Linked DNA regions of Homo sapiens: region 1 is reported to be linked to region 2. Evidence: microRNA targets listed by miRTarBase, many of them from high-throughput screens and not tested one by one. Region 2 holds a microRNA gene; the other region holds the end of a gene's coding sequence.
Evidence for each region. The annotated mature microRNA hsa-miR-874-3p reads CUGCCCUGGCCCGAGGGACCGA and lies in region 2 at 2,168-2,189, shown strand. An mRNA with a match to its seed (bases 2 to 7 or 8) in the 3' UTR can be bound and repressed. Matches are read on the target gene's strand: a 7mer-m8 pairs with bases 2 to 8, a 7mer-A1 pairs with bases 2 to 7 and ends in A, and an 8mer does both.

Region 1: the mRNA of CBX2 is a reported target of hsa-miR-874-3p. Seed matches in the 3' UTR shown: 7mer-m8 at 1,130-1,136, 7mer-m8 at 1,952-1,958 and 8mer at 2,854-2,861.

Annotation. Positions count from the first base shown.
Region 1 is chr17:79,784,624-79,787,971 of GRCh38, forward strand. It overlaps CBX2 (chromobox 2), which reads left to right. Exons shown (of 5, transcript NM_005189.3): 5 at 1-3,348. The coding sequence ends at 419. Among named protein-coding and RNA genes, the nearest start is that of CBX2, 8.2 kb to the left of the region's middle.
Region 2 is chr5:137,646,369-137,649,770 of GRCh38, reverse strand. It overlaps MIR874 (microRNA 874), which reads left to right and starts at 2,122; the gene lies at 2,122-2,199. The region is part of intron 8 of KLHL3 (kelch like family member 3); the gene reads left to right.

The DNA.
Region 1 (3,348 bases), not on the chromosome of region 2:
GTGGCCTCATTGGGGCCAGCGGGGCCACCATGCCCACCGACACAAGCAAAAGTGAGAAGCTGGCTTCCAGAGCAGTGGCGCCACCCACCCCTGCCAGCAAGAGGGACTGTGTCAAGGGCAGTGCTACCCCCAGTGGGCAGGAGAGCCGCACAGCCCCCGGAGAAGCCCGCAAGGCGGCCACACTGCCAGAGATGAGCGCAGGTGAGGAGAGTAGCAGCTCGGACTCCGACCCCGACTCCGCCTCGCCGCCCAGCACTGGACAGAACCCGTCAGTGTCCGTTCAGACCAGCCAGGACTGGAAGCCCACCCGCAGCCTCATCGAGCACGTATTTGTCACCGACGTCACTGCCAACCTCATCACCGTCACAGTGAAGGAGTCTCCCACCAGCGTGGGCTTCTTCAACCTGAGGCATTACTGAAGCCCCGGCGCCACCAGCTGCGCGGTCTTACTCCCCTTCCCTGCCTATGGTGTCGCTTGGCTAAGTGACTCCCAGCCCAAGCCCCCTCAAGAGTCTGGGTCGGGGGAGGAGGAGTGGGTGGCCTCCTTGATGGGCAGGCTTGGAAGGGACTTCTCCCGCACCCCACTCTGTCCCAGGACATAGGGCAGGGGGCCTCACTGCCTTGTTGGTCTCCACCTTGTTCCTACCTCTGCAGGCCTCTTTGCTCTCCCCTCTTGCCTCAGGAAACCCGGTGGCACCTGTGGCTCCAGGTGACTGTCTTGAACAGAGCGGGCTTCTTCATGGCTGCGTTGTTGCTGAGTTTGAACTGCTCCTCCCTGGCCTGCGTGACTGAATCACAGCTTTGGTCCCTGTCTTGCAGGGGCTGAGGTGTCAGGAGGGGACTTCTGGCCCACCTTGCCTTCAGCCCTGGAGTGGGCAGAGAGTATTGTGGGGAGGCATGGCCAGTGGGACTAGTGTTCCCTCCATCTGGCCACAGCTTTTGGGAGATGGGGTGGGCAGGGGTGGTCCTGGCTGGCATTGCCTGAGCCGGCAGTGATGAAGTGGGGAGCTTGCCCTTGACAGGTGGGGGCTGGCTGGGGCCTTAATGTGAAAAGACAGTGGCAGGCAGCTGGAGTAGAGCGAGCCCAGCAGCCCTAAAAGGCTGCCTTCATGGCCATCTAGCCCCAGTTCAGGGCAGCATCCATAGCCCACAAGCCAGCGTGGGTGGGGCGGGGGTGGTCCCACAGCTGGGTTCCACCTGAAGAGCCTCCGTGCCTCGGAGCAGGAGAGGCAGGCTATGGCTGCCACCCTCCCTCCTGCCTGTGTCCCAGTGAGAACTGACCTGAGTCCCCTTCCAAACCCAGACCCACCTCCTGCCCCAGGCCCACTGAAGCATGTTCCATTTCTAAAAAGCCCAGAGTTCAGTGTGTCCCAAGGAAAACCCAAAGTGGAGGTGCTCAGGTCCAGGGGAGTCCAGTGGGCAGGACCCTTGGCAGGCAAGCCCCTCCCTTCACTCCCAGGACCTACCTTCTGCTAGTAAAGGACTGGCTTCATTCTAATTATGGCCCACAGACTGCCCCGGAGACCTGGAGGACAGCAGTGCTGGCACTTGGGTGTCCATGGGCCCGTCTGCCGGCTCTGCCTGTGCTGCAAGTGTTGGCCGTGGGTCCAGCCAACAACTCCCTACGTCCTGTGTGGGGCCCTGCCCAAGTGGATGAGGCATTCCTTGAGGAGTATCATTTTCCCTGACAATCCCCATCACCTTTAGGGGTTCCCTGCTTGGCTCCTTTCCAGCTGAAAAACTAGACCTGTGCCATTGGGGAAGCTGGACAAAGTCTAGGGGGCCCGCCTGGTAGAGGGTCCCGGGAAGCTGGATCTGTCAGCCTCGGCCCTGAGGCCCCTGTTAACTCAAGACTGTGAGCTGCCTCTAGGTGGTCACGTCTGGGAGCTAGCTTGTATGGCTTCTGACCAGTATCAGGATTTCTGTTCTGAGAGCAGCGTGGGCAGCAAGGCAGGGCAGCCCAGAGGTGGCAGCGGCAGGCAATCTGGTCACTAGGTCTTTGTGATGCCAAAAATAAAAGAGGGTGGGGTGGGTGCTTTCTGTTCCTCTGATTGGATGGAGTCCGCCAGCAGGCATGGGGCTACATTCCAGTGCCTGACTATAGGGAGGCACTCCTGATTCCATGGAGCAGCCCGGACTTTGAGAATGGGCTCTGGTTTGCGGGGGGCAGGCGTACCAGACTGCAAGACCCCCCAGTACCTCACCGTGCCAAATAGGAAGAGGTGGCCTTGGTGTAGCCAAATGGATCTTTTTAACAGTGTGCCTTTGGGGAGGGACCCATGTCCATGGCTTCGTTGAGGGCCATCCATATGCCAGCTGGGGGCCAGCCCACAGTGGCCATATTGGCTGCAGCAGGAATGGTGCCCACCTCGGCGAATTGAAGGGCTAAGAGTCCCAGATAGCTAGGCCAGAGCTGGAAGCAGACAGTAAGGGGAAGAGCTGCTCCCACAGGAGAGGGAGAGATTCCAGCTCACTGCGCAGCCTGGGAGGAGGCGTGGATCCTGGCACGCTGAGCCTCAGGCACCAGCCTCCCTGTGCTCGACAGCAAAGTCTTGACTCCTTCCTGCTGAGCACTGTGCTACCTTCACTGCTCCAAAGCCAGACTAACAGCTCTCCAAGCCCTTGGGGTGACTCGGCTTCCAGGAGCTGTTGGAGAAATGAGGATGTCTGTCCCTGTCTGCCTGGGCAGGCCAGATTCCTCCCCAGCAGCCGGGTCTCTCCAGACCCTGATTCGGTGCCTTTCTGTTTACCAGCTACTTCAATCCCAAAGTTTGAATCTGCAGATACCTTACTCCCAGCCACTTTGCCTTCTTACTGTGTTGTGTGTTTTTCCTGGTGCTTCAAGAGCGTGTGCAGGGCAAGTGCCGTCACTGGGAACTGCACCAGATGCTCAGACTTGGTTGTCTTATGTTTACCAATAAATAAAAGTAGACTTTTTCTATTTTTATTTGCTGCTATTTGTGTGTGTGTTTGTGTTTGTGTAGCTAGGTATCTGGCACTTCTGACGATGCATTGTTGCTTTTTTCCCGAAGGTCCCGCAGGAACTGTGGCAATGGTGTGTGTGTGAAATGGTGTGTTAACCGCGTTTTGTTTGCTCCTGTATTGAATAGGAAGCAGTGGCCAGTCTGTCTTCCTTAGAGATGTTAGCATATTTTTATATGTATATATTTTGTACCAAAAAAGAGTGTTCCTTGTTTTGGTTACACTCGAAATTCTGACCTAGCTGGAGAGGGCTCTGGGCCGAGAGCTTTCACTAAGGGGAGACTTCAGGGGAGGATCAAGCTTTGAACCAAAGCCAATCACTGGCTTGATTTGTGTTTTTTAATTAAAAAAAAAATCATTCATGTA
Region 2 (3,402 bases):
TGGGCTAAGTGACTTATATTTGTTATCTCATAGGATTTTCATAACTGTAATTATCCCCATTTTGCAGATGAGGAAGTTGGACCTTGGGTTATGTCACCCACTTATTATGCATTAGTTATCTATTTCTGCATTACAAATTACCCTACGATGGCTTAACACAATAAACATCTATCATCTCACAGTTTCTGTGGGCAGGAATCCTGGAGTGGCTTAGCTGGGTCCTTTTGACCCAGGGTCTCTCATACAGTCAAGCTGTTGGTCGGGGTGCAGTTATTTCAGGCTTGTTTGGGGAGGATCTGATTCTAAGCTCACTCATGTGGTTGCTGGCAGGCCTGTTTCTTGCCATGTGGGCCTCTCCATAAGCTGCTTGAGTGTCCTCATGACATGCTGGCTTTCTTCCAGAGAGGGTGATTCTAGAGCAAGAAAATGAGAGCACACATCTAACACAGAAGCTGTAGTGTTTTTATAACCTAATGTCAAAATCCATGTCCCATCACTTCTGTCTTTTATTTGCTAGATACAAGTCACTAAGTCTAGCCCACACTTAAGGGGAGAGGTATTAAGTTCCACGTCTGAGTGTAGTAGTATCACAGAATTTGTGACCCATCTTTAAAGCACAATTAGTAAATGGCTGAGTTGAGGTTTAAGCCTAGGATGACTGGCCCGAGGCCCTGTGCTCTGAACTGTTTTATTATATTGCTTCCAAATGTCACAAAAGCATTATAGCCGAATGCTGTGTTGAAAGAAACCTGATTCCTGCCCTTTGGGGACTTTTAATTTTAAGAAGTCTCTCTGAGAAAGTAAGATAGACATATATGAACAACCAAATAAGTAGAGAAAGAAGAAAAATCAGGAGATAATTGGACTAGTTGGAGAAGCAGGCATAGGAATTCCAAGGGCAGGCTGGTTTGTGCTTTCATAAATTCAGTCCAGATAGGCTTTCTGGCAGAGCAAACTTTGAAAAACAACATGGTGGAGAGAGACCTGCACTATATTCAGTAATTCTCAGCAGTAACTCTGTTTGCCAGCCAAGTCCTTTCCCTGAGAGGAACAGGACTCTGCCTTGAGATAGCTGCAGAGGCTAATAAAGGTGTTTTTCCTGAGCCATATATGCACAGAGCATACTGACACATCCCAGCCGGAACAGCTAACAGCATCATCTTGGCTCCCACACATTCACCGCCCAGCACTTTTCCTGAGGCTGGGTTGCCATGGACAACCCGAGGCTGTCTCCCAGCCACTCAGAAGTCTCCTACGTTACCCTGTTCCACAGATGGCAGCAAGGAAATGAGGTTTCAGGAAGATGCAAATGAACCTTTTGGAAATGTACTGAACCTGGCACTTTTCACTGTCATTCCAGTTCAGTTGGCATCTCTATTCAGCTCTTTAAAAATGCTACTGAAACGCCATTTGGGCTGGAAGTGGGTGGCTTGCTCCTGAGTTGGGCTGTCCTGCTTTCAGTAGATGGTATTTGAAGAAGCTGTTGACAGGGTGGATGGGATGACCTCTCATTTGGCCCAGGCCCCTGGATGGGCACTGCCCCCTTCCACCTTGGTCCACACCCTGACAAGCACCCTGGGGTCCTGAAAAAGCCCCATAATCACCCCTAGAATTAGTGGTACTTACCCTCCCTCACAGGTTCATAGTATCCTTTTCTACCTTTCATTGGGAATCTGTTTTTTAGCACCTGCCTTAGAAGCTAATAATGACACTAGTGTTAATCAGATAACATTTAGTGTTTACTATTTATCAAGCATTGTGCTAAGTGCTTCATATCATTTAAGCCTCCTGACACCCATATGGGAAGCATCCTATTATCCTGATATTACAAGTTATGAAAATGAGGCTTAGCAAGGTTCAATGTCTTGCTCATAGCCACACAGCTATATAGTGACTGGGCTGATACTATATTTGGGCCCAGATGTGTCTGATTCCAAAGCCCATTTTTTCCACTCCTCTTCTCTCCCCCCGGGCCTTGCCCTCATATTACCTGGTTCTCAGACCCCCATTTTCTCTGCACCTTGCTATCAGTACTTGCCTAGAGCAACTGTTGCTCAGGAACCTGCTTGGACAAGTCTTCTGGCTCGACCTCGACATGCTCCATCGGATGAATTGTTGGTGTTAGCCCTGCGGCCCCACGCACCAGGGTAAGAGAGACTCTCGCTTCCTGCCCTGGCCCGAGGGACCGACTGGCTGGGCCTGCCTTCTGCCCAGCTCACCGGTCACAGAAGAGAGTTTGGACATGCATTCTACTCTTGCCCGATGAAAAAAGTGTGTAGAGCCCAGATTGTTCCTCTCACCTGAGTAGAAATTTGAATGACCTATGTAGTCCTGAGGCCAGGGCTAGGGTCTTGATCTACACGTAGGCTGGAAATCTCTATTCTCTTCATGGATTGTCCCTTTCCCTGGCTAGTCCCTGGCACCTAATGGCTCTCAGACACAGGGTGGTTGTGATTTCGGTGAGGAGGGACCAACATGCCTTCAATCCCACAGTCACGCTGGTAGAATCAGAATCATCTATGTAAACAAGAGAGCATTATATATTTATTTTTAAAAATGTTATGCTGGGAGTAAAATTTCCTTCCTAAGGAATCAGGTAGTCTTTTGCTTGGGCTCACTAATCTTCCTAAAATAAATGGCTATTTGACTTTTCAAAATGACAGTGTTTTCCTTGGGAGGTATCTAATAACCATCTCTGCTACAGTGGAGTTCAGCTCACTCATATTCTGTCAACCAGAGAACCTCCATTCACCAGAACTTCTGCAGCCTTCAACACAGTGACAGTTGAGACTTGGGATCAGAACTTTGAGGCACCCTGCCAAACTCCTAAGTATGCTGCAGTTCACGAGAGTGATTAAATTATGTTCAGTCTAGCATAATTGTTCACCTAGAGCCAGTTCTTTAGTTTGTGATTCCTACGTGACTGATAGTTCTTACTCAGGGTTACCTTGAAAGATAAATGTTAAAAATAGTGATCATTAAATAAGCTGATTTGATTGAGTAATTTCTAATAAAGGCATATTAATCTTAAGTATATTGGGGTTTAGGAGTGTTGGGGAAAGAAAGAAACATGCTTGTTGAACTCCCTGGGCCTGGGTGTTTCTGGAATATAAAATGAGGGCATATAGGAGAGAATGGTTCAAGTCTCTTCCTCTAACATCTTGTGGTCTTCTTAAGTAGCTAGAAGTTTGTGATTTCAGAGATGTGATACATGTAGACTGTGGGAAATACTCGTATTTGCCTAACTGCTTGCTAACATCAGGTATCCATGGAAACAACTATCCATTAGCACTCATGATAGGAAATTTATTCTTTTTACTCTGCATGATCAACACAGTAGTGGGTGTAGTGCTCCATGTATGAGTGCTTCTTGCAACACCTACCATAAAAATTGGATTTCTT